Regions from separate parts of the Homo sapiens genome. Here regions 2, 3, 4, 5, 6 and 7 are each linked to region 1. The links come from fine-mapping of genetic effects on gene expression. A gene starts in region 1. Each other region holds a variant in brackets. All regions are shown on one strand. Distances are between the middles of the regions. Region 1 holds the start of PTGR1 (prostaglandin reductase 1). Region 2 has its middle 110 kb from the start of LPAR1. Region 3 has its middle 3.8 kb from the start of ZNF483. Region 4 overlaps LOC124902248 (a long non-coding RNA gene). Region 5 has its middle 14 kb from the start of OR2K2. Region 6 overlaps ECPAS (Ecm29 proteasome adaptor and scaffold). Region 7 overlaps PTGR1 (prostaglandin reductase 1).

Evidence for each region.
Region 2: its variant is fine-mapped to the expression of PTGR1 in hippocampus (GTEx, PIP above 0.99).
Region 3: its variant is fine-mapped to the expression of PTGR1 in whole blood (TOPMed, PIP above 0.99).
Region 4: its variant is fine-mapped to the expression of PTGR1 in spinal cord (GTEx, PIP 0.99).
Region 5: its variant is fine-mapped to the expression of PTGR1 in lymphoblastoid cells (TwinsUK, PIP 0.95).
Region 6: its variant is fine-mapped to the expression of PTGR1 in fibroblasts (GTEx, PIP above 0.99). The same link has a PIP of 0.9 or more in breast and subcutaneous fat.
Region 7: its variant is fine-mapped to the expression of PTGR1 in aorta (GTEx, PIP above 0.99).

The regions. Positions count from the first base shown.
Region 1 is chr9:111,597,354-111,601,706 of GRCh38, forward strand. It overlaps PTGR1 (prostaglandin reductase 1), which reads right to left and starts at 2,294. Exons shown (of 10, transcript NM_001146108.2): 1 at 2,250-2,294; 2 at 1-79. The coding sequence starts at 69. RefSeq lists an enhancer at 2,145-2,717.
Region 2 is chr9:111,143,982-111,148,334 of GRCh38, forward strand. No RefSeq gene overlaps it. Among named protein-coding and RNA genes, the nearest start is that of LPAR1, 110 kb to the left of the region's middle. The variant C/T (reference allele first, on the strand shown) is at 2,051.
Region 3 is chr9:111,519,185-111,523,537 of GRCh38, forward strand. No RefSeq gene overlaps it. Among named protein-coding and RNA genes, the nearest start is that of ZNF483, 3.8 kb to the right of the region's middle. The variant CACTT/C (reference allele first, on the strand shown) is at 1,878.
Region 4 is chr9:111,038,476-111,042,828 of GRCh38, forward strand. LOC124902248 (a long non-coding RNA gene) reads left to right here. Exons shown (of 2, transcript XR_007061732.1): 2 at 980-4,353. It also overlaps a transcript of LPAR1 not described here. Among named protein-coding and RNA genes, the nearest start is that of LPAR1, 2.2 kb to the left of the region's middle. The variant G/T (reference allele first, on the strand shown) is at 1,935.
Region 5 is chr9:111,313,961-111,318,313 of GRCh38, forward strand. No RefSeq gene overlaps it. Among named protein-coding and RNA genes, the nearest start is that of OR2K2, 14 kb to the right of the region's middle. The variant A/T (reference allele first, on the strand shown) is at 1,863.
Region 6 is chr9:111,429,083-111,433,435 of GRCh38, forward strand. ECPAS (Ecm29 proteasome adaptor and scaffold) reads right to left here. Exons shown (of 50, transcript NM_001364929.1): 8 at 4,151-4,290; 9 at 1,465-1,546. Among named protein-coding and RNA genes, the nearest start is that of ECPAS, 53 kb to the right of the region's middle. The variant G/A (reference allele first, on the strand shown) is at 2,247.
Region 7 is chr9:111,577,061-111,581,060 of GRCh38, forward strand. PTGR1 (prostaglandin reductase 1) reads right to left here. Exons shown (of 10, transcript NM_001146108.2): 7 at 1,736-1,891. It also overlaps a transcript of ZNF483 not described here. Among named protein-coding and RNA genes, the nearest start is that of PTGR1, 21 kb to the right of the region's middle. The variant A/C (reference allele first, on the strand shown) is at 2,104.

The DNA of each region.
Region 1 (4,353 bases):
CTCAAAGTCACTATTAGTAGGATAGCCAACAAAGTGCTTCTTCAGGGTCCATGTCTTAGTACGAACCATCCTGAAGCTCCTAGAACACAGTAAATATGTAGTCAACTGCCATGAAGTGACTGCATTCTAACAGTTCTCTAGCCGTCAAACTGAGACCAGACAGCACAATTACAATATCCTCAAATCCCATCATTATCATATCATGCCAACCACATTCATTTAACATTTACTATGTTTCTGGTGCTGTGCTAAGCACTTCATATAGATTACCTCATTTTATCCTTATAACTTCCCTATAAGATAGACATTAGTATCATTGCCAGTGTACGGATGAGGAAACTGAGGTTTAAAGAAATCTTCAAGACAAGGAAAAAATATAAAACAACAAAGAAATTCTTCCCAGCCACTGCTAGGCTAGAGTTTCTCTACGGCACTGAACAGTTACCGGAAGTGCGAATATTCCATTCCGTTTCTCATCTCACATGGAGTGAATTCTAAGAAAAAGCATCAAACACAAAGAACCCAATAGATAGAAGTCCATGCACCTCTTTCAGATGGAAACAGCCACGCATTTCAAGGCAGTCTCAGAACTCCTGAAAACCACCGGAGGGCGCCGCTGCTCCGCCCCATTTTCAGGTGCGTTTTTTTTTTTTTTAAATACTTTTTTTTCTCTCTTTTCTTGTAGAGAGGAGCCTCACTGTGTTGCCTAGGCGATCCGCCCGCCTCGGTCTCCCAAAGTGCTGGGATTACAGGTGTGAACCACTTGCACTCAGCCATCGGGTGCGAATTTTCTTTGGCCCAGTAGGGATTTGAGTTTAAACTCCACACCAAACCGATTTTGAGCTGAAACGCTGCACCAAAGCAAGGGAAGATGATGAAGGCTGCCCCGAGCTGGGGGTTCAGGATGTTCTGCTTGGACTGAACTCTGCCGAATCACTTGGGACCTGCGCCTTCCCGCGGGTGCATCCGCTACAAACAATCCAGTTACGAAACCATTTGGAGCTGCCAGTGATCTCCCCAGCTCCCCTACCGGTGCCGCGGGAGGGGACACGGTGACCTGGAGGGAGCACTCCCGCATTGCGAGGGAGCCAGGGGGGCGGTCTGATCTGCAGCCCGGGGTTGTTCCTTCTTTTCTTTTTTTAAAATTAAGACTTTTTTTGTGACGGAGTCTCGCTCTGTCGCCCAGGCTGAAGTGCAATGGCGCGATCTCAGCTCACTGCAACCTCCGTCTCCCGGGTTCAAGCGGTTCTCCTGTCTCAGCCTCCTGAGTAGCTGGGATTACAGGCGCCCGCCACCACGCCCAGCTAATTTTTGTACTTTTAGTAGAGACGGGGTTTCCCCATGTTGGCCAGACTGGTCTAGAACTCCTGAGCTCAAATGATTCGCCCGCCTCGACCTTCCATAGTGCTGGGATTACAGGCGTGAGCCACCGCGCCAGGCCCTACGTATCATTTTTACGGTGAGACATTTGCAGTTTACTCTGTTATTTCGAAATACACATTATTGGCTCTAGTCACTCTGCTGTGCAACAGATCTCAGAACCTACTCCTCTCGTCTCTGAACTTCGTACCCTTTGGCCAACAAGCCCCCATTCCCCCCCGAACCCGCTCCCAGCCTCTGGCAACCATCATTCTAGTCGTTATTTCTATGAGTTCAACTTCTTTAGAGTTCACACATCTTTGTCCCTTTCCCCAAAAAAGCAACCGCTGGGCTTCCAAACTCGCTACAAGTCCAGAAGCCCTCCTGGAAAGGGTCTGGCCGCAGAGGGGCCAGGTCCCGGGAAAGTCTCGCCCGCCCGAGGAGGGGGCCTGGCGCGGCGCCCGGCCTTTGCCCGCTCGCCCTTTGCTCCCACCCTCGCCTCCCGCCGCCCGCCGCCCGCTTGCCCATTCCCGAATCCCCACCCCGATCTTTCTTCTTCTACCCTCCCCCAGTTGTGCAGTCCAGCAAGTTCCCTGGCCAGCCCCCTCCCGGGTGCAGGAAGCTACCGGGTGTCCCGGGTTGTAACCAAGCTTTCCTATTCCCTCCGGCGCGCGGCTCCAAGCTCTCCAAGGAACTGCGGGGGCGGGAGGCGTCGGGACGTCGGCTCCCAAGATCCTCCGAGTGCAAGACCCAGCGGTCATTTCGACGTAAGGGGAGGAGGTCTAAGAGCAAACCTCCTCCACTGGGGCGTCTAGAAACTTGGCAGGAAGAAAGCAAGGGGGTTAGAGGAGGGAGAAAAGGGAAGGAAAGAAAGCAGGAGGTCTACTTACAGGAGCCCGAAGGTTCCACTGCCTGGGGAAGGCGGCTGGGACTGCGCAGCCGGGCGCCCGGGGTCCGACTTATGACAGGTCCCAAGAGAGGGTGGGGCCACCCCAGGGCGGGGCTGCTTCTTTAGGGTGAGAGCCCGGCCCCGAAAGGGTCACAGGAGGAAAACCAGGGTCCGGGAAATCTGAGTGCGTTTGTGTGTGTGTGTGCGCGTATCTCTGTGTGCCTATGTGCATGTGCGCGCGCGTATGTGTGCATGTGTGCGTGTGTGTGCGTGCGCGCCCGCGCGCCCGTGTGTGTGCGTGTAGGGGGTTAGGGACTCCTGATAGGAAAATTCCTAACAGAGCTTTGTCCAGCTGACACTGGACCTCCGCCTGGGGTCCTAAGTTGGAGCCCGGCGGAAATATGCCCCGTGGGGGAACCAACCGTGGCATCTGCCAAGCAGGCCGGAAGGGTCCAAAGGCAGGGCCTGGGGCGGCCGCAGCCCTAATAAGCCCCCGGTGCTGGCTCCGATCCCTGGGCTCCCCGTCAGCCCTGCCGCTTGCCCGCAGTGCAAGCTTTCGCCCAGGGCTGCGGTGCAGACACCCTGCCTGTCTGTCCCCAGTCCGCCTGCTGAACACCTACTCGCCTTCCACCAGCCAATTCAAGGTCACCTCTGTGAACCCTTGCCAGACTCCCCCAGGCAGGAGTGAGCACTCTTGCCACTGAGGCACCCCACCCATCACACCCTAGCAAACATCAGGCCTTGACCTGGCTTCTGCAAGGAGAGGTGGTCTCAGGCAGGGGTTGAACGTGAAGCTAAGTCGTTGGTATTAGACGACTGCAGGTTCGAAGCCTGCACCTGCCACTTACTAGTGGTGTAGCTTTCAAAGACTTACTTACCTTCTCCTTGCCTCACTCAGTTCAGCCATCTGCAAGATGGGGATAAGAAGAATGCCTAACTTCCAGTCATTGTGAAGATTCAATGTCTTTAATTTATTTATTTAATTTTAATTATTTTGAGGTCTTGCTCTGTCACCCAGGCTGGAGTGCAATGGTGGGCATCATAGCTCATTGCAGCCTTGAACTCCTGGACTCAGGTGATCCTCCTTCAGCCTCCCTAGAAGCTGGGATTACAGGCCCACCACCACACCTGGCTCAATGTCTCTCCTTGTAAGGATACCCGCCATATTGGATTAGAGCCCCACTTGTCAGCCTCCGTTTAACTTAAACACGTCTTTGAAGGCCTTGTCTTCAAATACTGTCAAATGGATTAGGGCTCACTAATATGGCCTCATGTAACCTTAATTACCTCTTTAAAGGCCCTATCTACAAATACAGTTACATTCTGAGTACTGGGACTTGGGGATTTTAACACATGAAATTGGGGAAGACACAGTTCAGCCCATAACAGAGTGTGTGGACCAAGCGTGGTGGACGCATGCCACAGGATATACACAGCATCAGAAGCACTGGGTTCCATGTACATAAAGCAACTTGGATGGACCCTAAAAACACAATGCCGAGAGTTGAATTCTTCACACTAATCAGAGTTGGTGGCACTTTATCCCCACTGGTCTGCCAAATTCTTTCTTTCTCACTCTCTCCCTTCTCATTAATTTATGTAACTTAATATAAAACAAAACTCCATTCCCAGGCTGGGTGCTGTGGCTCATGCCTGTAATCCTAGCACTTTTGGAGTCTGAGACAAAAGGACCACTTGAGGCCAAGCATTCAAGACTTGCGTGGGCAACATAGCTTTAACCTGGGAGGTGGAGGCTGCAGCGAGCTGCGATCGTGGCACTGCACTCTAGACTGGGTGTCTAAGTGAGATCCCGTCTCAAAAGAAAACCAAAAAAACTCAATTTCCTGCTTTTCTCCTCCTACTATAGGTAACTACTGTGATGTATTTGATTTGCATACAGTTTTTTTTTCCATGTTCTTACATAATGTGCACTGTGGTCATATACATTTAATTTATAGAAACGGTATTGGGTTACATATCGCATTCTGCTTCTCTCTTTTTTTTTTCTTTTAAGATAACTTGTTACAGAATCACTGTTTCTTTTGGATATTAGAAGTGTTAATAAAATTGCAGGCATAAAAAGTCTTTGCAAAGTAAGAATAAGA
Region 2 (4,353 bases), 450 kb before region 1:
TACCTATTTGATCACATATTATTCTCATTTTCACTTTTAGTAGTTATATTTCAATTTTGAATACTTGACTCAATATAGTACTTTGAATCAAGAAATTTCATATTTTTTAGAATTTCCTTAGGATAAGTGTTTTGCTTAATATATTCTTAAAAATCAATCTTTTTATGTATTTTAGTGTCTACTCTTTCAAATTTACGGAGGCTTTGTTATAGATAATTGATGTTACCTACATATTTTTGTTTGTTTTCTTTTTTATTTTTATAGAAACAGACGTTGCAGGATGTTTATTTGTTTTCAAGTTAGGATATTGGGCTAAAAGGTAGTGAGGGGACAATGGATCTTTCCCTTGGCTGGGTCCTGGAAGAACAGAGGGGCCTGGACTCCCTTGAAGGGTGCAAGGTCAAAGACCCACTATTAGGAGATGTGAACCAGTTCCTGCAACTTGCAAACAGAGAGTAAAAAGATAGATTCTCTGGAGGATCCTAGGAATGAGGAATCGGTTTTGGCTTGTGAACTCTGGAAATGTTCATATTTAGTATCCAGGATTTTCTTTTATATGGCAAATCTCCTTTTGTTCTCTTGTATTGTTAGTAGAGTTCGTTTAATTGTTATAGCCTGATCTTAGCTGAGCTCTGAGTATTAATTGATAGGCCCATGTGCATATTTGGAATGAAATTGTATAGGGAGAGTAATCATGGCCTAAGGAAGCCAGTGAAGAAATAATACATTGTTATCCAAAGATCAGAGATGCAGGCCAGAGTGGGGCTGCTGGCCGAAGCACACAGTAAAAACCAGGACTGACCTGGTGACATGGGTATATTCTCCAGGGAGTCTCAGAGACCTTGGGACTGTGGTCAGACATAATGAGGGCATGGATCCTTTCATTTAGAGTTAAAGGGAAGTGCTACTTCTGACAACTGTAGAGGCCAGGAACCTTTGGATTACAAACCAATAAATTCTTGTCACAGGCACTCAAGGAGACAGAATCTACTTTTCCAGATGCTTTTGTGTCTTCCTGCTGCACCGCCTACGATTACTGTTTTAAAGCTCTATTTCTAAATGCATGATATTAATAACTTCTTTTTTGAAAATGCTAAATATAGATGAAGCTACAACAAATGTGGCAACTTTCTACATAGTAATATATACAGAGAGCCACAAAATATTTGTGTAACTCTTCTAATTCTACTTAATGGGAACATTTTAAATTAATAAAAAATATAGAGGAAAGCATGAAAAAAGTAAAAGTAAATATGGGTTAACAAAAATGCCTTAAAACTTTGGAATAATAAACAAAAATATATTAATAGGAATAACACTGATTAATAGTGATAAGGAAAAACATGTTATTTAAACCATTAACACAGTATAAAAGTTTTGGAATCACATAAAAACTTGAAGAGATGAGCAAAACAGGCAGCAACATGAGTGCAAAATAGCCAATAATGTTCTAAGCAATTAAAAGTATTTAATAATTTACAATATTAAAAAGCATGAGGACAATAGTATGTTCTCTGCAAAACACACTCCCATGGCTCAGGGTTCCTGATAGAATGGAGAGGAGCCCACCACTGCACCAGTGGGACATTCTACTATCTTCACTATCTATTTATTACTTAGCCTTCATTAATTGTTCTTTACTATGCACTCTTCACTATTATTCTTATGTAGGTTGAGGGTAGGGCTTACATCTTCCTTAGCAAACAGTAATAGCTCCTAGCAGCAGTTGCCTTTCATACTTGTACACAAGTGCCAACACATGGAAATGTTATGTGAAAAAAAAGTGTCCATCACAGTGCAATTTATACCAGCAGAAAATGCAGATAACCTAAAATGCCCAGGAATAGGAAACAGTTAAACATCCCATCACATGTTAGCTGAGCGACATATTTCGGAACTCTTAGAAAAATCATGATTTTAAAGATGCAACCTGGGAAAATTCTTGATTGAATAGATGTAAAAACAATGTAAAATATACAGAGGTAATAAGCTTATGTCAAATTTATAAAACATATGGAGAGCTAACATAAAATGCTAATGACAGTTGTTA[C/T]GGTGACAGGTTATGAATTTTTCTACTTTTTTTGGTAGGGTGAATTTACTTTCATAAGAAAAATTATGTGTGAAAATATAGATGAAGTCTCTTATTTGCACCCACGGTTTTTTGGGCCATAAACTAAAATCCTCAAGGTAATTAGGGATATGTGGCAGCCAGGTAGCCACAGAGTCCCATTTTCAGCCCTCCCAACAGGTGTTTCTAAAGAGCTCAGAATCCCGAGACCTACATATCATGTTGATTCAGCCATGTGAATGTTTTTAAGGAGGAATACCAAAAAGAGAATAGTCTTGTGGGATACATGAATGATAAACCTCCAGAAGAAAAAGGGCAGTGCCCTAATACTGAGCAACTGCATACATTTTTATTTCCAGGTAAAGATCACCCTTTGAAAAAACTAAGGAGCCTGCCTGTCCATACAGGGCAAGCTTAAAATAGAATTATGTGAAGTGGTCTGGTCATCCTGTGACCTGTGGCAGAAAATAGTAGCAAAGAAAGCGAGAGAAAATATCAGAATCTGAAATTTCACCAATTCATGATAACCACAGACCCTCCTGGACCTTCCCTGGGAAAAAAGGAACAGAGAAAGGGGAGAATATTCTGTCTTCCTCAGATTCCAGCCCATCCCTTTCCAATGTCCAGAGTCTACCATCTGTGAATTTATAACTCCACCCTTTCTTCCTCCCCATTTCCAGTCTTCTCAGTTAAGCCTTCTGTAGCAAATGGATGAGTTAAGACCTGGTGTGTTGTCTCCCTGTTAGTAATTAAAGTGACATGAACAAAATTGCCACGTTTTGATTTCACTTCATGCCCAGAGACATCTGGGGATCTTTATGGGCCAGTAATTTGATACTAAAGGTAGGCTAATCATTTGTGTCCCTTCAAATAGAGATTATTAGGTCTGTGTGTGACCTTTACTTAAAAACGAGGCTAAGTGCTGCTGTACCGGGAGGACCAGGGTCACAATTTTCAGCCTCTTCTGCACTGTCCCTGGACCAGAGACCCATCAACTATGACTCAAGCACGCTTCCTAGAAGACAATTCCATCCATCCAGAGTGCTTATCTAAGCAAACACCCTCCAGCCACCTACAGAACTCTCCCTGACAGTAGTGCTAATTAAGATTTTGTCCATCAGTTACAATCCCAATAATGCTTCAGCACCCCCATGACTAGAGGCCCAGGCAGCTGTCGTGTCGGCTCACTTGTTTCCCCATTACAGGAAGTAAGCTCCCTTGGAAAAAAATCACAGTGGTTAACCTTGGGGGAGGAAGAAACATTGTCTAGGAAAGAGCAAAAGAAACTTTCTGGGCAAAAGTCATGTTCTATATCTTATTTATTATTTTTATTTTATTTTATTTTAATTAATTTATTTATTTATCTCTTTAGAAGCAGAGTCTTGCTCTGTTGCCCAGGCTGGAGTGCAGTGGTGCAATCTCGGCTCACTGCAACCTCCGCCTCCCGGGTTCAAGCGATTCTCCTGCCTCAGCCTCCCAGGTAGCTGGAACTACAGGCACGGGCCACCACACTCGGCTAATTTTTTGTATTTTTAGTAGAGGCGGGGTTTCACCATGTTAGCCAGGATAGTCTTGATCTCCTGACCCTGTGACCCGCCCACCTTAGCCTCCCAAAGTGCTGGGATTACAGGCATGAGCCATTGCACTCAGCCATGTTCTATATCTTAATAGGGGTTTGGGCTACACCAATGGATGCATTTGTTAAAACTGAGGAAATTAACATGAAGATTCGTGCATTTCTTTGTATGTACATTTTACATCAAAAGAAAAAAATTATAAACGAATATTTAACTCTTGATGATACTCATGATACAAAATAGTAACGTTAGTATATTAAGGTCTGCAATTTTCTTTGAATTGCATAAACAAAAAGAGGATGGCTAGTAAGACTGTTAGGTGGATAGAAAGACTGTTAGATGGATAGATATGTGACAACACAAGCATAGTAAAATTTTAATAATACAATGTAGATAATGGGCATAGGGGGTGGTCATCATAGTATTTGTTCAACTTAGTCATATGTTTGAAAATTTTGGATAATAAAATGCTGGAGGGAAAAAGAAATCAACTCACATCCTCAGGCCGAACTCTAAATAAATTAGGCAGTAACTATATTACATTGCTATATTAGCCTCCAGTGACCTCCTCCACTCCTGACCGTTTTAAATATTTGGCGTTACAGCTTCATTCTCTCAAAAACAGAACAGGCTATGTTGTTTCGGTATACTGCTAACACTGTGAACATCACAAGGTTCACCTTCAATTACTTTACCTAATCTGGAGTA
Region 3 (4,353 bases), 78 kb before region 1:
TTTTGTGGACATGATTTCATTTTTCATGAGTAAATACCTAGAAGTGGGATTGCCGGGTCATATAGTAAGTATATATTTAACTTTATAAGTACATTATTATTATCATTATTATTATTATTATTTTGAGACAGAGTCTTGCTCTGTCACCCAGGCTGGAGTGCAATGGGGTGATCTCGGCTCACTGCAACCTCCGCCTCCCGGGTTCAAGCGATTCTCCTGCCTCAGCCTCCCAAGTAGCTGGGATTACAGGTGCCTGCCACCACACCTGGCTAATTTTTTGTACTTTTAGTAGAGATGGGGTTTCGCCATGTTGGCCAGGCTGGTCTTGAACTCCTGACTTCAGGTGATCCACTTGCCTCAGCCTCCCAAAGTGCTAGGATTACAGGTGTGAGCCACAGCACCCGGCCATAAGTACGTTATTTATTAAGCTTTGATGCTTTGATTTCGCTTGTCCTTTAATCTCTCTACTTTCTTCTTTTTCATTCGTTCATTCTTTTTTTTCTTTTTTTGTTTTAGAGACAGGGTCTCACTCTGTCATCCAGGCTGGAGTGCAGTGGCACAATCAGAGCTCACTGCAGTCTCAACTTCCTGGGCTCAAGAGATCCTCCTTCCTCAGCCTCCTGAGTATATGGAACCACAGTCATGCACCACCATGCCCGGCTATTTTTAAAATTTTTTATAGAGATGGGTCTTGCTATGTTGCCCAGGCTGGTCTCAAACTCCTGGCTCAAGTGATCCACCCACCTCGGCCTCTCAAAGTGTTGAGATTACAGGCGTGAGCCACCACACCTGGCTCATTCTTTCTTTTTTTAAGAGACAGAGTCTCACTATGTTGCCCAGGCTGGTGTCGAACTCCTGGCCTCTGGCAATCCTCCTGCATCAGCCTCCTGAGAAGCTGGGACTATAGGCGCATGCCGCCATGCCCAGCTCTCTTTTCTTCTTTTATGTTAACTAACTCTTATCTTCATCTTCCTTACCTAAATTGGACTCCATCATAAATCATTTTAAACAAACTTTTGCTCATATCCTCAACTGGTTATCCCACTGTCCTCCTGTCAAACTTATGCTACAACCCCCATCCCCTGGATCAATTCAACTGTCCCTCTTCCCTGTACCTATTCTGGAGCTATGTTGTGTACCTTGAGAAAAATCATTTAATGTACATATTGATGTAACATAAAATGGGGGTTTCTAACCTCAAATGGGCCCTTAACACTGCAGGGAAATCCTTCTGTGTTTTTGTGATCAACTCATATTCTCCCAGCAGCCATCTACTCTTTTTTTTTTTTGAGATGGAGTCTCGGCTCTGTCACCCAGGCTGGAGTGCAATGGCGTGGTTTCAGCTCACTGTAACCTCCACCTCCCAGGTTCAAGTGATTCTCCTGCCTCAGCCTCCCAAGTAGCTGGGACTACAGGCGCGTACCACTATGCCCGGCTAATTTTTTTTTTGTATTTTTAGTAGAGACAGGGTTTCACTATGTTGGCCAGGCTGGTCTCGAACTCCTGACCTCGTGATCTGCCTGCCTTGGCCTCCCAAAGTGCTGGGATTACAGGTGTGAGCCAGCACGCCCGGCCAAACCTAATCTACTCTTATCAAGCTTCAGATCCCACCCGTATCTCCCTTCTGGGGAGGTCCCAATAGTGGATCTCAGCAGGATCCATTAGATACCAGTTCCAAATCCAACTGCATCTACCCCCTTCTTTGCCTCCTTCCCTGCTATTACAATGAACACTGCATGCTGGCTCTGGCAGTTTAAAGCTAATTTCTCCACTTGTGCTTCCCCCTAGTTTCTCAGTCTTCACTCTACAGCATATTCCCACACTCTCTGTCTTCATCCCCTTTCTCTCTAGTGGATCCTTACGGGAGCTTCGTAGCT[CACTT/C]GCTTGCTATTTCTTTTTCTTTCTTTCTTTCTTTCTGGAACATACCACCCTCTGTGGCTCTACAGAGCCAGGCAGGAGGAATTTTTTGTTATTTCTTTTCAGGAGAGGGTCAGCTCCCCTAGAGTGGCTCTGGGATCTTTGGAGTCCCAGTTAAACCAGGACTGGAGGCACCTGGAAACAAGGACTTGGTGTCCTTGAGGCAGCTCAAACCTTTAGAGCTCAGAGGCCTCCAAAGTGGATGCACAAGAGCCCTGAGGGTCTTAAGGAGATAACTCCAAAGCTGCTAGGTGGGGAAGCCAGGACTTCAATCAGGAATGCACCTCTTTCATCTGTAATATTTCTTTTGGACAGTTTGGCAATTAACAACTAGTTTTAAAACACCTGTTTTAGATCCTTGATCAGAGTCCCAGCCTGTCCTCCTCCCTCTAGAGATGGGGAAGATGTGCTCCTTTCTCCTAAAAGCCTTGGGCTCAGAGCCAGTCAGTTTCCAATCTACCAGTTGAGTGACCTTGGGCAAGCCCCTCCCTGCGCTGGGTCTCATTTTTGAAAAAATAGGATATGGGGAGGGGTGGGCAGGACCTTGGGTCTTCAGTTTCTTTAAAGTGGAGTGAGTCTAGAAAGAAGACAGGGAAGCCGGGCGCAGTGGCTTACGCCTGTAATCCCAGTACTTTGGGAGGCCGAGGCGGGTGGATCACGAGGTCAGAAGTTCAAGACCAGCCTGGCCAAGATGGTGAAACTCCATCTCTACTAAAAATACAAAAATTAGCCGGGCGCAGTGGCAGGCGCCTGTAATCCCAGCTACCTGGGAGGCTGTGGCAGGAGAACTGCTTGAACCCGGGAGGCGGAGGTTGCAGTGAGCCGAAATCGCACCACTGCACTCTAGCCTGGGTGACAGAGCTAGACTCCGTCTCAAAAAAAAAAAACAAAAGAAAAAAAGAAAGAAGACAGGAAAATTAGACAGACTCTCCCCTTCAGATACACAAACAATCATACATACTTCCTCCCCAACTCTGTGTACGGGAACAGAGGCTGGGCAAGGGTCTAAGAAAACAGGAAATGTTAATACAAATAACAGGTCAGGCCAGGAGCAGTGGCTCACCCCTGTAATCCCAGCACTTTGGGAGGCCAAGGTGGGCAGATTACCTGAGGTCAGGAGTTTGAGACCAGCCTGGCCAACATGGCAAAACCCCATCTCTACTAAAAACACAAAAATTAGCCAGGTGTGGTGGTGAGCCCCTGTAATCCCAGCTACTCAGGAGGCTAAGGCAGGAGAATTGCTTGAACCTGGGAGGTGGAGATTGCAGTGAGCTGAGCTGAGATCACACCACTGCACTGCACTCCAGCCTGGGCGACATTCCGTCTCCAAAAAAAAAAAAAAAAAACAAATACACACAAAAAAATCATAGGAGAACACTATGCAGCAATGAAAATAAACACTGTATAATCACATGCAACAATATTGATAAATCTCACAGACATAATGTTGAATGAAAGAAGTCATAATATATGAAGAATATGTACTGTAGGATTCTACTTTCTTTCTTTTTTTTTTTTTTATTTTTGAGATGAAGTCTCACTCTGTCGCCCAGGCTGGAGTGCAGTGGCGCAATCTCAGCTCACTGCAACCTCTGCCCCCCTGAGTTCAAGTGATTCTCCTGCCTCAGCCTCTTGAGTAGCTGGGATTACAGGCAGGCGCCACCATGACCGGCTAAGTTTTGTATTTTTAGTACAGATGGGGTTTCACCGCGTTAGCCAGGATGGTCTCAATCTCCTGACTTCGTGATCCGCCCACTTCGGCCTCCCAAAGTGCTGGGATTACAGGCGTGAGCCACCAGCCCGGCCCTTCCATCACCTTTTAAACCACCTTCATTTTATGTCACCATCATGTTACCTGGATTATGATAAGACAAAGTCTTTTTATCTCTGGTGTTACTTCTTTCTAATCTACTGTCCATACTGAAACCAGAACAGTTAAACGAACAAACAAACAGCTCACTTAAAGTTCTCCTAAGTATGTTTTCCTGTTTAGAGATCCCACCAGCTTGCTTACCAGTGGAACTGATTTGTAGTTTCCTGCTTCCTTCCTGATGCACAGTCCATCACTCCTTACCATGATGGTTACTTTTAATCAAAAGTTATAGTTTGACTACCAGTTCCAAAAAGATGCCATTCTTTCCTGGTAATTTATTCATAGGTAGCATGTCATTTACTTACAGAATATTTCAACTAGTACTGTGTTTCTCAAAATACAAGATCACCTGCAACAAGTTGATGGGTGGGGAGGGCCAGAAGGTTCCAAAATCTGTATTCAAATAAAGAACACCATGTGATTCTAAAGTACAGTAAAGCTTGAGTAAGCTTTACTAAGTAAAGTGCCTCTGACTTGCCTGGTTAAAATAATGAGCCAATAGACATTTCCTATTCCTTTGCCTTCTCCAGCTTCTTCCTGATGCGTCTAAAGCCAGCCAAGGG
Region 4 (4,353 bases), 560 kb before region 1:
GCTTTGGCGCGCTGGCAGGAGGAGGGGGCGCAGAGGGAGGGCCAGAGGAGCAGCGCCGACGCCAGCCTCCTCTCTTCCTCCGCCTTCCTTCTTTTCTGCTTGTTCCACGTAGCACAAGTCAGCAACACCCGAACCCCCAGAGTCCGCCCTCCCCGCTCCCAAGCTGGACCCCTTACCTGGTGTGGCGCCCCCAGCGCCCCTGACCTCTGCGCCCCCTCCTCCATTCATTGGCTCGACAGCCCACGGTGGTGGCAGGGCCGGGGCTGGGGGGTGGCCTTAGCCTCCCATTCATTATCTCAGCAGCCTCCCCCGCCCCGCCCCCGAGTCGACACACCCGCAGCGGGAGACCCGTGGCCGCCAGCTCGGGTCCCACCCCCGCCCCTCCTGCGCTTACCCCAGCGCCGGACAGCTGGCAGGACTCCGGTGGACGCCCCGGCACGGGGCATTTTCACGTTGTCGCTCTCCTCTTCCCACTCGAAAAGCTCTGGAAAACATCGCGGGGCCCGCAAAACCCCGGAAATGTGGCCTCTCTTTCGTGGCTCACTTTCTAAACTTTCCAGAAGGCGCAAAGTTTCTCCCAGCGCCGCCCTGCACTGGAGGCTGCGAAGAACGCAGAAGCGGCTTTGCTGCTAGGAAGGTGCATACGTTTCTAGTTCTGATTTTTCACTTCACTGGATCTGTAAACGAAAGCAAGTGTGTCTGCTCCCCTAGTTCTCCATATCCACGATTATAAATTTCTCTTCCGCTTTCCCAGTGTAGCTTTGCAAGTGTAAACTATCAATTTTAGTGAGAGTAATTAAGGGCGGGGACTGCACACCTGGAGGTGTGGGTGGGAGCGGCGCGGGACTAAGGCCTAGGGAACATTCTCAGGAGAGTGGCAGCCACAGGGATTCGCCCAGGTCTTATAACACACCCACTCGATGGGGTCTCCCTAGCCACGCCACCTCACAACACCCATCTCCCACTTCTGGCTTCCCAGGATTTCCGGAGTGATCACAATTATCGGCCTCTCGCTCCACAGCTAAGGCCACCGCATATCAAAAATAGCAGCGTGTGAGTAAAAGTTTCATGAGCCCTCGCCTTGAAATGGCACAGAGGACACAGCACACCAGCAGTAAGGCATGGGGACTCGGCAGGACTGATCTGATTGAGAGAAACGCAGGACAGCGAGGCGGGGCTATGTTGGTGGTGGCCACCAGGTAACCGTGGGCTTTGCAGAAGAGAAAGGTCACTGCAAACCGTAGCTGGACGGAAACTTTTCAAGCCTCAAGTGAGTTATGCTGTGACGGGACCATGACCATCTCCCACCGGTGACTGCTTAGAACCTTGACCAAGCTCGTGTGGTTTTCACAGGATGCTCAGGGCTGAGTCCTGGCTGTAAATAATTTACTATCTAAAGCTGTTTCCTTTTAAAAACAATGGTTCTAATCTTTTTTTTAAAAAAAATCATTCAAATCTTTTTTAAAAATCCACTTTAAATAACTTTGCTTTCTATACCTTTCCTACGAATATATGATTTATTTTATAACCTACTATGTGAAAAAATTGAAATTTTAGTACATGCACAGTGCTAATATGTTCATGCACAATGCTACTTATGTTTGTGTACGGCATGCAGAAATGTGTATAGATATGTATACCCATGAATACAAACCACTCCCTTATCTCACAAATAATCATAGGGGTTGATACCAAACTATAAGAAATATTATATTGGGATGAATAGGCAAATGTTCACTATAAAATCTCAGTATCATAAAAAGTATATATTGGTAAGAAAAAAATATACTCGAAAGAGGTTTCCATATATTTTTAACCATAGCTCTACTCAAGTCAAAAAATCACTTATTAGCTAATTTTCCCGTCTCTTTCTTCCTATACACTGTACTTACTATCAGATTTCTTAACACCAATACTTCTATATCTAATATAAA[G/T]ACATTTTAAAATTAATTATTTCCATGTTTAGCCTTTCCCCATAAATCAAAGGTAAAGTAAAAGGAGTTTCTTACCTACCACTCAACTTGAATATTTTTAATATGTTGATTTTGTCTCTTACCTTCTTAAGGAATACAGTTGCTTCTGTTTTGACTATCTTAACTACTCTGTGGCCCCTTCTAACATCAAATTGGGAGGCCTGTCCGTACAAGACATGTGTATTCAACAGTAAGTTATTTGCTATAAAACACTTCATTTCCTCTTTATTTGGTCTGCTGTGGCCTGAAATGAAATATAGAACAAACTGAAAGGTCTGCCTGGACAGACCTGTCTTCCTGACAAGCGTGGACCTGTCTAAATGAGACAGCTTCTGCAGCCAGCTTTAGATCGATAACTCTAAAATTAAATGTAGGTATGTACATCCAGTAGAAAAGGACAGAGAAAATGAAATACAATACAGAATTCAGTTCAGCATCTAGATTAATCCATAAAACCTAGCTCATTATGTTCCAAATGAGCTACTTTTCTCATCTGTAAAATGGAATAATGGTACCAGTGCAGTCTTTTATATGGTTCCAAGTTGTCTTTTATCAAAGTAAAATAATATATTTGGGTGGGCTTCTGAAGACACTAACATTGATGATGAGGTTTCAACAGGAACAAAGAATACCTTGATAAATTTTCTTGAATGTTTTCTCCTGTCTGTAGTCCTCTTGTCATTCAGACATTCCCTTTCTTGGAGAGTCATCCTGATGCTTTCTGTCCTAACCTTTCTCTCCTCCCCTCTGCCAAGCAGTATTTCTTTAGATTTGTTTCTTCAAATGACTTCAGCAGAGGTAAAGACCCAAAGACAGCTGGCGCTGTCAAACATGACAAAAAATATTCTTAGCCACAGTGGCTCATGCTTGTAATCCCAGCATTTTGGGAGGCTGAGGCGAGAGGAGCGCTTGAGCCCAGGAGTTCGAAGCTGCAGTGAGCTGCCATTGTGCCACTGCACTCCAGCCTGGGCAACAGCCAGGCCCTGTCTCTTAAAAAGTTTTAAAATTTTTAAATATATATGTATGTTCAGCAAAATGAAGCCAGGCATGGTGGCTCACACCTGTAATCCCAGCACCTTGGGAGGCCAAGGTGGGCAGATCGCTTGAGGCCAAGAGTTTGAGACCAGCCTGGCCAACATGTCTGTCTCTACTAAAACCCTGTCTCTACTAAAAATATAAAAATTAGCCGGCATGGTGGTGCATGCCTGTAGTCCCAGCTGTTGGGAGGCTGAGGCATAAGAATCTCTTGAACTTGGGAGAGAGAGGTTGCAGTGAGCCAAGATTGCACCACTGCACTCCAGCCTGGGCAACAGAACAAGACTGTGTCTCAGAAAAAGTTCAGCAAAATGAAACATTGTGATGGATATTTCAAGTTCAGGTTTTACATTAATATCTGGAAGGACACCATAGACTTTGTCAGACTATTGATATAAGCTAGTGATCCAAGGACTATAATTTGAGAAGCATTTCGGGTGGAAAAATTGGCTGTCACTGCCTTTGGCACTATTATTTGTTCAAAAGGTTCCCCAGTCATGGCACACTCATGGAAGAGTTCTCTCTTCCTCCCTCTGTTCGCTTCCCTCTGGCAAAAAGCTTTTGAAATTTTCTGTTCGAGAGTAATCAAAACTATCAGCAAAACGATCTGTTGGAAACTTTCCCTCCAGTCTATTAAGGTAGAGACTGATTCAAAGACAGTATTTTGGTGAAACAATACCCTGAGAGAACTCAGCCTTTTCCGGAAAGTTTTGCAGATGATGCCTCCAGGCATAGTTTTCTTCCTCCTTGAAATGGGGTATTTGTGCCTCTCCAGTGTTTTTCCCCTTGGCTAGGGGGGAAAAAAAAGCATTCTCCTTAGGAAACCTTTCTATTTTAAAAGTCCAGCGGCAAAGGTGGGTGGGGCAGCCCAATTTAGTAAAAAGTAATAATAATAACACTCTTCAGAGTGCAGGTGGCATAAGGAGATTCCAAGAATGGAGAGAATTTGGGTTTGCATGCAGCAGCCTCCTGCAAGGACTAGGCTGCAATGAAAGCCCCAAACAGAGTAACTCTGTGTTCACCTTTTTCTTATCACATACATCTGCATGAATACTCTGGGTAACATCAGAAGTAGGTCAAGGCTAGCAGATCCTTTCTCTGTAGTCTCCCTCATCCAAAATAAAAAAGGCTTAGATCTAAAACAGAGTGAAGAAAGACAAGGAAAAGGAAAAAAATATATGTGTGTTATATATACAACTATAAAGCTAAAAATGGATCTGGATACAAAGAAATCATAGAAAGGGTCAACAAAACAAAAACCTAGTTCTATAGAACAATAGCAAGATAGATAAATTTCTGGTAAAATTGACAATGAAAAAAGAGAAAAGAAGGCTATGAATATGGA
Region 5 (4,353 bases), 280 kb before region 1:
TTTCCTGCTTTTTAATTGGATTGTTTCTCTTTTTGTTATGGGGCTTTTACATATTCTATATACTAGAATCTAATTTATGATTAGCATAAATCCAGGACCTAGATTTATGGTTAGCAAACATTTTCTCCCATTCTGTGAGTTTCCTTTTCACTTTCTTAATAGTATCCTTTGATGTTACAAGTCTTTTATTTTGATCAAGTCCAATTTATCTATTTTCTCTTTTGTTACTTGGGCTTTGGCTGTTATATCTAAGAAACCATTATTGTAGCCAAAGTCATAAATATTTACCCCTCTGTTTCTTCCAAGAGTTTTAGCTTTTACATTTGGGTCCTTGATCTATTTTTAGTTAATTATATATATAATATATATATTTACATATATAATATATAATTATATATGATAGTATATATTATTTTGTTATATGTTATATAATAATTATATATTTATTTATATAATATAATTTTATATTTATTATGTACATTATATATAATGTATATTATATATTTTAATTTATTGTTAATTGATATTTATTTTATTTTAAATATATTTTAATTTAAATATTAGATAATATTTATATATGTTATAATAAATATATCATATATAATTCACTATATATAGTGAATTATATCTATAATGTGCATTTTATATATAATGTGAATTTTACATATAATGTGAATTATATATATGTATATATAATATGAGGTAAGGGTGCAACTTCATTCTTTTGCACGTGGATATCCTGCATTTCCAACATTATTTGTTGAAGAGACTATTCTTTCCCCCATTGAATGTTCTGGGTGCCATTGTCAAAAACCAATAGACAACAGATGTATGGATTTACTTCTAGACTCTCAATTCTATTCCATTGTCCTATATGTCTATCTTTATGCTAGTACCACACTGTTTTGATTACTGTAGCTCTATAGTACATATTGAAATCGAGAAGTGTGAGTCTTCCAAATTTGCTCTTCTTTTCCAAGATTGTTTTGGCTATTTGGTGTCCTTTATAATTTCATATGAAAAAAATCCATTAGGATTTTGATATGGATTGCATTGAATCTGTAGGTCACTTTGGGGAGTATCACTTTGGGGGAGTATCTTAAGTCTTCCAGCGCTTGAACATGGAATATCTTTCCATTTAGTTAGGTCTTTAATTTCAAAAATTTTATAGTTTTTAGCACACAAGTCTTACAATTCCTAGGACAAATTTATTCCTAAGTATTTTATTCTTTTTGATACTATATAAATGAAATTGTTTTCTTTATTCTATTCAGAATGTTCACTACTAATTTACAGGAACATCACTGGTTCTTGTACATCAATCTTAGATCCTATAACTTTGCTGAATTCATTTATTACCTCTAATAGTTTGTTTTTCTTTTCTTTTTTTTTTTCTGGTCACTTGTTTAGAATTTTTTTACATAACATCATGTCATCTACCTAATGAGATAATTTTTCTTCTTCCTTTCCAGTTTGGAAACTACACAAACTACCAAATCTGACTCAAGAAGAAACAGAAAATCTATACCAACCTGTAAGTAACAAAGATATTGAACTAAAAATCAAAAACCTGCAGAAAAAGAAAATCCCAGGACCAAGTGGCTTCACTAGTGAATTCTACTAAACATTTAAGAAAATGTTTAACACCACCCAGGCGCGGCAGCTCACGCCTGTAATCTCTTTGGGAGGCCAAGGCAGGTGGATCACGAGGTCAGGAGATCGAGACCATCCTGGCTAACACGGTGAAACCCCGTCTCTACTAAAAATACAAAGAAAAAAAATTTAGCCGGGCGTGGCCAGCGCCTGTAGTCCCAGCTACTCGGAAGGCTGAGGCAGGAGAATGGCGTGAACCCGGGAGACTG[A/T]GCTTGCAGTGAGCCGAGATCGCGCCACTGCACTCCAGCCTGGGCCACAGAGTAAGACTCCGTCTCAAAAAAAAAAAAAAAAAAAAAAAGAGTAAAAACAAAAGTAACACCAACCCTCTAAAATTATTTCAAAAAACAGAAGAAGCAGCTCCGAGGAATTTGCAACTGCAGTGACCTATGATCACACCACTGCACTCTAGCCTGACCCATGGAGAAAGATACATATAGTGCAGTATCATTCTGGGTCTCTGGGAATTGGAGTAAGCTGTGAATCAGTGTTCAGAAATCCAAAAGTTCTGAATGTTCTTGTTTCTTGCTGCAGTTATTTTGAAATCAAGTTGTGGCAAAAAGAATAATGGCCCCTAAAGATGTCCATGTCTTAATCCATGGAATCCGTGAATATTTTAGTTATACAGCAAAGGAGAAGTAAGGTTGAAGATAGAATTAAGGTCGCTAATCAGCTGACCGTAAGACAGAAAGATGATCGAGCTTGGCCCAGTGCAATCACAAGAGGACTTGAAAGTGGACAAGAGGGGCATAAGAGGGAGTCAGAGAAAGAGAAGTGGTGACAGAAGCAGAGTCAGGGCGTTGCTATATGAGAAAGCTTAGAAGACGGAGGAAGGGGCCATAAGCCAAGAAATGTGGGTGGCCACCAGAAACTGGAAAAGGCAAGGAAACAATTGCTACCCAGTGCCTACTAAAAGGAATACATCTCTGCCCATACCTTGACTTTAGTCCATTGAGACTCATGTCAGATTTCTGACCTATATAAATGTAAGATTACAAATTTGTATTGTTTAAACCACTATGTTTGGGGTAATTTGTTATGGCAGCAATAGAAAACTAACACAAATGGTATGCAGACCCCTGAAAGTCTTCAAGTCCCTTTCTGTGAGGTCAAAACAATATTTATAATTATAAAAAAAAGTTTCTCTTACTTTTTTACCTTGATGATATTTTCAGTGGTTGCAAAAGCAATGGTGAATAAAACTGATGGCACTGTAGTAGAAATAAAAGCACTAGCACCTAACTATACTAGTAATTATTGTATTCTTCATCATAATGCACTCATAGAAAAAAAATCCAGTTTCACTTAAGCATACATGATGAAGCAGTAAAAAAAATAATAACATTATTAAATCTTGACCTTTGAGCACATGTGTTTTTAATAGTCACTGTGACAAAATGGGAAGGATGCCGCTCTGCTGCATCTGGAAGTTTCATAATCACCTTGAGGAAAAGCATTTGTTCAGTTGTTTTGTTTGAGTATCCATCACTTTTTTCATGGATCACCTTTTTTGTTTTTTGAGAAGGAGTTTCACTCTTGTTGCCTAGGCTGGAGTGCAATGGCGCAACCTCGGCTCACTGCAACCTCTTCCTCCCGGGTTCAAGTGATTCTCCTGCTTCAGTCTCCTGAGTAGCTGGGCCACCATGCCCAGCTAATTTTGTATTTTTAGTAGAGATGGGATTTTTCCATGTTGGTCAGGCTGGTCTCAAACTCCCAACGTCAGGTGATCCGCCTGCCTCGGCCTCCCAAAGTGCTGGGATTGCAGGCATGAGCCACCGCACCCAGCCATGGATTACCATTTTTTTCTTCAAAAAACAACTGGAAGATAAGTGTTAGTTTTTCAGACATATTTTTTCAATCTTTTCTCTCTGTTATTTAGTCTGGATGATTTCTGTTCATCTGTCTTCAAGTTCACAGACTCTTTCTTCTGTAATCTACATTCTATAATTGAGCATATTAAGTACACTTTTTATTTTAGTTGTATTTTTTAATCCCAAGATTTCCACTTGTTTCTTTTCTTAACTTCTGTTTCGTTGCTGAGGTTCTCTTACTTTTCATTCATTTTAAGAATGCTTGCCCTTACGACCTGGAGCATGGTTATAATAGCTGCTTTTTTTTTTTTTTTTTTTAATTATTATACTTTAAGTTTTAGGGTACATGTGCACATTGTGCAGGTTAGTTACATACGTATACATGTGCCATGCTGGTGTGCTGCACCCACTAACTCGTCATCTAGCATTAGGTATATCTCCCAATGCTATCCCTCCCCCCTCTCCCCACCCCACAACAGTCCCCAGAGTGTGATGTTCCCCTTCCTGTGTCCATGTGATCTCATTGTTCAATTCCCACCTATGAGTGAGAATATGCGGTGTTTGGTTTTTTGTCCTTGCGATAGTTTACTGAGAATGATGATTTCCAATTTCATCCATGTCCTTACAAAGGACATGAACTCATCATTTTTATGGCTGCATAGTATTCCATGGTGTATATGTGCCACATTTTCTTAATCCAGTCTATCATTGTTGGACATTTGGGTTGGTTCCAAGTCTTTGCTATTGTGAATAATGCCGCAATAAACATACGTGTGCATGTGTCTTTATAGCAGCATGATTTACAGTCCTTTGGGTATATGCCCAGTAATGGGATGGCTGGGTCAAATGGTATTTCTAGTTCTAGATCCCTGAGGAATCGCCACACTGACTT
Region 6 (4,353 bases), 170 kb before region 1:
TCATTGCCAATAAATCATGTTGTTTTTCTTGAAGTAACAAGCTCATTTTTTTCCCTTTTAGAGAAAGTATGCACCAAATACCCATCTCGGTAGCTATAATTTGCCTGTCTACTCTTCAAGTAAAGTCATTTTTACTGCTTCATCAAGGATGTTCTTAAGTAAAGCTGAGTTTTATTCTCTTTTTTTTTTTAAATGAGTACATAACACTGAAGAATAGAATAACTGTTAGTCATCTGGTGACATGGCTTTGATATGTGGTAGGAACCTAGCAAGTACACTCACCATTGCTTTTGTACCATGAGTGCAAATATTGACACAGTACAAAAAGAAAAGGCCTTCACAGACTGCCTAAAAGGTGTTTTGTGACCCTAAAAAGGTCCATGGACCACACTGTGAGAACCACTAATCTAATCCAACCCCTTCATTTTCTACATGAAGAACATGAGGCCAGGAAAAGTTATGTGATCAGCCAAACCTTTCCTCCCCAGCACATTCATGTGTACAGCCATTTGGGGCTAGAATTCATAGGTCCTGATTCCCAATTCATTGTTATTTCTGCTTTACCACACTCAATCTAATCTAACCAGGGCTAATATTGATTTTTAAAACAAGTATTTATGGTTTAAAAAGCAAAAAGGCAGACAGGTGCAGTGGTGTGCACCTGTAGTCACAGCTACTCAAGAGACTGAGGCAGGAGCACAGCTTAAGCCCAGAAGTTCAAGTCCAGCCTAGGCAACATAGCTAAACCCCAACTCAAACAAAAAAGAGCAAGAATGCAAGCATGCAAACAAATAATCCTTGTATATCTGGGTTTGGACCTGGAATACTTTTAAACACAGTGAACTAAAAAGAACTCACGTTAGTAAGGCAAAGGTCTTACTTTGAGGCTTTAGAAGGACCTATCTTTTGTTCTAGATTCTAGACCAGAAGTCTGCAAACTATAGCCCACAGTCCGAATCTGGCCCACCATTTATTCTGATAAGGTCTATGAGTTAAGCATCATTTTTACATTTTGTAATGGTTAAAAAATATCAAAGGAATATATTTTGTAATATATGAAAACTACACAAAATTCAAACATCAGTATCCACAATGTTTTACCGGCACACAACCATGCTCATTCGGTTATGTATTGCCTATAGTTGCTTTCATGTTACAAGAGTTCAGCAGCTGCAACCTGAGAGACCATAAGGCCTGCAAAGCCTACAAAATTTACAGAAAAAATTTGTCAATCCCTACTCTAGACAGTTTGTCATTGTTATTTAGGAATCTGAATTTACAACACAAGATCCAGTAAACTAAATTACCAGGTTTTAATTCATCTAAACTAGCATGACTTAAAACTAGCATTTTGTTATAGCACAGATTCAGCTTAAATGAAACTAGAAGAAAATGTATAAATACGCAGTTCATGTCAACAAACTACTTTTTACGCTGATGTGAGAATAAATCAAAACAACCTACCTCTTTTGTCTTCAGTGGTATATCTCCAAGGTACACCTTGTACATCTTATTAATGATGGCAGGATTATTCCAGTCAATTAAGCTATGGAAGGTTTCAACACAGGTTGTTAAAATTATTTTTCCCCCTCCTTCAGTGATTTCAAAAAAATTATAGCCCCAACATTTCTTAACAAAAGAAAATGTTAGAAACACACAAATGAAATGGGCAATTGACATTGTAGAAGAGAAGGAAAAGAAAGGGACTAATTTCTATCAAAGTATGTTTTTAAACCAAAACAAATACAAATCACTTATCCCACCCAGACTCAACAGATTATTGTATCCAATGGCACAATTTGGTACCACAAGAACACTGGACACTGTTCCTACATAGATGGGTTCTCAGGCCAATGGCATGGAGCAACTCCAACAGAGCAGAGCTTTACTACACTTGTTCAAAGAGGCCTGGGGCAGGGTAGGATTCGTCTGTTTAACCATTTGGCAGTTCAAAAGTGATAAGGAAAGTGACAAAAAAATTTTTACCCATGAAATTAAAGCCACATCTAGGAAGCTTGCAAGCCACCGTATTTCTCTAACGTCACTGTGATTCCCAGCATCCCCCTCCTTCCTTATCTACCAGTACACACTTGCAGTTTTAATTCTGCAGAGTAGTTATGCTATCAGTCACTAAGACTTAATTCTATTTGGGCCCCACAATAAGGTGAATTCAGATATAAGGTGATTGGTGACAGCTGGGCATGGTGGCTCACACCTGCAATCCCAGCACTTTGGGAGGCCGAGGC[G/A]GGTGGATCACCTGAGGATAGGAGTTCAAGGCCAGCCTGGCCAGCATGGCGAAACCCCATCTCTACCAAAAATACAAAAATTAGCCGGGCACGGTGGTGTGCACCTGTAATCACAGCTACTCAGGAGGCTGAGGCACGAGAATCACTTGAATCCGAGAGGGGGAGATTGCAGTGAGCCGAGATTGTGCCACTGCACTCCAGCCTGTGTGACAGAGCTAGACTCTGTCTCAGAAAAAAAAAAAAAAAAAAGATGATTGGTGATTCGTTCCCACCCTCTGCAGCAGATCCCACCCACTCATTTCATAAACCTAGCAATAATGTAATCCTTCCTTTCATTTGACTGGTTTACCATACTATATTCTCTCTGCCCTTTGACATTGGTTCTGCTTTCAAGCTATCCTGTGTTTGTGCAAACACAACAGATGAAGCTACTTTAACTGCTTTTTGGATTTATCTTCTTTCATAGTTTATAAATATGCTTCTTCTTAGAATAGCCACAATTCCGCTATCCTCAGAGGCATTCTACAATTCTGTTTTAGATATGATTCACCTACATCTTTCCTCAGCTGATTGCTACTAACTAATCCTCAAGCTCCGCCGTTGCTTTTCTTTCATAATACTTGTGGTTTAGAGATTTCAGACAAAACAAACACTTTAGTAAAACAAACTAAAAACTTAGTAGTAATTAACTTCATTCATATTTTGGCAAATATATAATATTCCATAAAGATACATACAGTAATTTACTTAACTATATCCCCATTATGGAAAACTGAATTTGTTTTCATATTTTAACAATGATAGAAAATGATATAATGAACAAATCTATAAAATTTTTCTAAATCTCTTTCTGCTTTTGAATAATTTCCTTAGGATAAATTCCCAGAATATTGAGATAAAAGGATAGAAATATCTTTATGATTCATTACTTATTGCAAACTGCTTTCCAAAACTTCATTTCAATTTATAATGCCAATCAACAGGGTATAAAAATAGCAGTTTTGGCCAGGCGTGGTGGCTCACGCCTGTAATCCCAGCACTTTGGGAGGCCAAGCTGCGTGGATCACCTGAGCTCAGGAGTTCGAGAGCAGCCTGGGCAACATGGTGAAATCCCATTTCTACCAAAAATACAAAAATTAGGCAGGCATGGTGGCCAGCACCTGTAGTCCCAGCTACTTGGGAGGCTGAGGCATGAGAATCGCTTGAACCTGGTAGGTGGAGGTTGCAGTGAGCTGAGATCGTGCCACTGCACTCCTGCCTGGGCAACAGAGAGAGACCCTGTCTCAAAAAATAAATATATAAATAAAAATAAAAATCGCAGTTTCAATAGAAACGTAAATGGGTTTAACCACTGCTACTGGTATCCCATTCATTTATTTTTCATTGACTTCATTCATTTATTTTTCATTGACTTTATTTCTTATACAGAATATTTTCTATAAGTCTATTTCCTATCTGTATCTCCTCGTGTGTGAATTAGAATCTATTCAGCAACTCTTTTCATGAATGTAATTTTCACTGTATTAACCATAATACATACATAGTCTTTATTAAAAGTAATCTCGAATGGTTTGAGACACAGAAAAAAATAAAAATTAGTTTCTTGGAACTGACACTTTTCTTAACATCAATTCTTTAAGTTCATCTACCTAGCCAAAAGTCTCATTGATTGTGATGACATTCCTAACCTATTGCAGCTATAAACAGCATCTCCACACAGATTTTCTTCTCTGTCTTACACAGAATTCAACTCTTTAGCAAACTTGATTACAAACTAGGTATATTTAATAATCTCCTCTAAGTTGAATGCCTCATTACAAAAAATCCTTAAACAAAAAATGTGTCAAGTAAGTTTTTAGAAATGTAGTCCTTTCAATCTTGAAAGTTTACAGGGAAGTAGTTACCTCTGTTTGCTTTTCAATTCCAGGTCTGCTGCCGTTGCCACACTGTGGCGTGTATCACTAGAGGCAATCACCAAGTGGAGAACAGCTTCAAGTTCAGGCACCTGTTCAGCTTCTATGAATTTCACGATTCCCAATTTGCACTGTAGATAAATGAAGGGAAGGAGAAAGAACAGTCAGGGGAGCAAAGGACACCCACTGAAAGT
Region 7 (4,000 bases), 20 kb before region 1:
AGCCTGGATGACAGAGCAAAAAACTGTCTCAAAAAAAAAAAAATCTTACAACCTCACAAATAACCTAGTTCAAAAATGGGCAAAGATTTTGAACAGATATTTCTCCAAAGAAGATATACAAATGGCAAATACATACGTTGAAAGATCCTTAATATTGTTAGCCATAGGGAAATGCAAGTCAAACTCAAATCAGAATGAAATATCACTTCAAACCTACTAGGATGGTTATAATAAAAAAGACAGACAATAGCACGTGTTGGTGAGTATGTAGAGAAGTTGGAACCCTCATACACTGCTTGTGGGAATGTAAAGTACTGTAGCCACTTTGCAAAACAGTTTGACAGCTCCTCAAAATGTTAAACATGAAATTATCATATGACCCAGCAATTCTACTCATAGGTATATACTTAAAAGAAATGAAAAATCCACACAAAAACCTCTGCATGAATGTTCATAGTAACATTATACTTCATAGCCAGAAAGTATAAGCTAATACCCATCAGGCTGGGTGTGGTGGCTCACGCCTGTAATCCTAGCACTTTGGGAGGCCGAGTTGGGAGGTTTGCTTGAGCCCAGGAGTTCCAGACCAGCCTGGGCAACATGGCGAAACCCCATCTCTACTAAAAATATAAAAATTAGTTGCGTGTGGTGGCACATCCCTATAGTCCCAGCTACTTGGGAGGCTGAGGTGGAAGGATTGCTTGAGCGAGGGAGGTCGAGGCTGCAGTGAGCCACGATCACACCACTGCACTCCAGCCTAGGTGACAGAGTGAGATCCTGTCTCAAAAAACAAAAAAAAGGAATAAAGCACTGATAAATTCTATGATATGGATGAAACTTGAAAACATTTTGCTAAGTGAAAGATGCCAGTCATAAGAGACCACTTTTAGTGGGGAGGAGGGTGGTAATGGAGAGTGACTGCTAATGAGTAGCGTTTTTTGGGGGGGGTGATGAAAATATTCTTAAACTGGTTGTACAATTTTGCCAATATAGTAAAAAACATTGACTTCTACACGTTAAATGAGTGAATTACATGGTACATGAATGATATCTCAATAAAGCTGTTTTTTAAAAAAGGCATATATACTTTCTTCATGTACCCCAAAATGGAAACTCTAGGAATATATTCCCTTGTATCAGCGGTCCTCAACCTTTTTGGCACCAGGGAGCAGTTTCATTGGAAGACAATTTTTCCATCGATTGTTGGGGGGATGGTTTCAAGGATGATTCAAGTACATTGTGTTTATTGTGCACTTTATTTCTATTATTATTGCAATGTAATATACAATGAAATAATTATACAACTCACCATAACCATAGAATCAGTGGGTGAGTTTTCCTGCAACTAGACGGTCCCATCTGGGGGTGATGGGAGACAGTGACAGATCATTAGGCATCAGGCATCATCAGGCACCTGAGTAGTGCGATCTCCATAAGGAACGCACAACCTAGATCCCTCACATGCATAGTTCACAACAGGGTTTACACTTCTATGGGAATCTAATGCTGCCACTGTTCTGAGAAGAGGCGGAGCTCAGGCAGTAATGGGAGCAATGGGGAAGGGCTGTAAATACAGATGAAGCTTTGCTTGCTCACCTGCCCCTCACCTCCTGCTGTGCATCCCAGTTCCTGATAGGCTATGGACCACTAACCATCCATGGCCCAGGGGTAGGAGACTCCTGCTTTATATAGTACTTCCATAATAAATTAGATATTAAGTCCAGTTTGTACTTACATTATCAAAATAACAATCATAACCATCAGGAGACGCTTTCTTCAAGGTTTCTTCCAAAGACTCTACCGTCTTGTAGTTAAAGACGACATCAAATCCAAGCTTTTGAAGGTAGGCAACCTTTTCATCAGACCCTACTGCTCCAACAACTTTGCAGCCCTAAGTAGAAAAAAAAAAAAAAAGGAAACCATGAATAAGTCACAAGCATGGACCAACACTACTTTCCTGGTCTCGTATGCCTAGGTTCCCTAGGAACACTCTCTTAGGTGCTGAGCCACATATAAAAGGAATACCATAATGGGCCAACAGATCCCATAGGTGAAATCAGTCCCCGGACCATCCTACAACTCAGCTTCAGCTTGCTTCTGACC[A/C]CCCAGCAGGTCCCTTCTGCATTTATTTGGTTCATAGTTCCACCAGCTGGTTTCACAACCGATCCATTTGACTTCCTTGGTTCTTTGTTTCTGGGCTTCTCTTCCTTGCAATGCAGTGTATGCCATCTCTTGGTACAGTCATTCTTCAGACTATTATTTTGTCTCAGCTCTGTGACTCCCACATCACAGACAGCCCTCCTAGTAACTGCCCCCTTATCCTTTTTTGATTTTTTAAATGTTTATATTTTTTTGAGACATGGTCTCACTCTGTTGCCCAGGCTGGAGTGCAGTAGCACGAACATGGCTCACTGCAACCTTGACCTCTTAAGCTCGTGATCCTCCCACCTCAGCCTCCTAAGTAGCTGGGACCACAGGTGCATACCACTACATCTGGCCTTATATTTTTTAAATTTTCACAGAGACAGGGTCTCACTATATTGCCCAGGCTGATCTCGAACTCCTAGGCTCAAGTGATCCTTCTGCCTTGGCCTCCTAAAGTGCCCAGGCTGATCTTGAACTCCTGGGCTCAAGTGATCCTCCTGCCTCAGCCTTCTAAAGTGCTCGGATTACAGGCATGAGCCACTGCACCAGGCCCCCTTTATCCTTTGATTTAGTCCAAAGCACCAGACTACACGCTTCCTAATCACAGAGGAGCTAGGAAGCATTCTGAAAAGCACTTTCAGGATGACACTACAGATTATAGTGGTTCATAGAAACTAGCTTTTCAGAAAGCTCCCTTATACTCTAAATGTATTATGAAGACCAGAATATGTGCCACTGTGCATTTTCAATCGAGGAAAAACCCCAGTTGGATTTACATGAATCTCTGTACAAATAGTGACGGCCACAGGCTTTTTCCATTCCTTCATGATTCCAGAAAAAACTATTGCAAGAGAGCCCTCCTTGGTCCTTTTTCCTTCTAAGACTATAGACTATCATAGGATGATCTCTTTCACTCTTATGACCTCCTTTATGCAGATTATTAATTAATCTATTAATTCTATCTATTAATGTTAGCCCATTTTTTTTCTCCTGAGTTCCAAATCAGTATTTCCAACAACCTATAGATGTCCTCACACTTGGATGTCCTGTAGGTCCCTCATAAATAGTGTGTTCAAAAGGGAATATACTTTTTTCCTTGCTTCTTACTTATTTCTTTTCTATCCACTATTATAAGAGAATGATACCACTCAGTTATCCAAACCTGAAACATGGCTCAAAGGAGAAGCTTTCCTTTGTCTTATGATCCATGTCCAATCATCTGGTTTTCTTCCTCTTTTTTAACCAAACAGCCTTAAAATCCGACTCTGGGCCAGGCGCGGTGGCTCACGCCTGTAATCCCAGCACTTTGGGGGGCTGAGGTGGGTGGATCACCGGAGGTCGGGAGTTCGAGACCAGCCTGACCAACACGGAGAAACCCCATCTCTACTAAAAATACAAAATTAGCCAGGCGTGGTGGCACATGCCTGTAATCCTAGCTACTCGGGAAGCTGAGGCAGGAGAATAGCTTGAACCTGGGAGGCAGAGGTTGCGGTGAGCTGAGATCGCACCATTGCACTCCAGCCTGGACAACAAGAGCGAAACTCCATCTCAAAAAAAAAAAAAAAAGCTGACTCTGACTTCCAATCTTTGTCGATGCATCAAAATTTTCATTTGAATTATTGTAAGAGCCTCCTAAGTGGACTTCTTGTTTCTAGCATAGCGTCCCTAGGAACTATTCTCCTACCAAGGCCTAAGTGATGTTTCTAAAAAGCAGAACCAATCATGTTACTTCTTTAAGGATTGAGTATAAATTCCTTAGCATGGCAGTCTCCAGTGGAATTTCTACAGGGAAGAGAAGATATTTTAAAAGATGTGTTCATACTGTTTCAAGTTTCTCAGTGAAATTCAAAAGGAT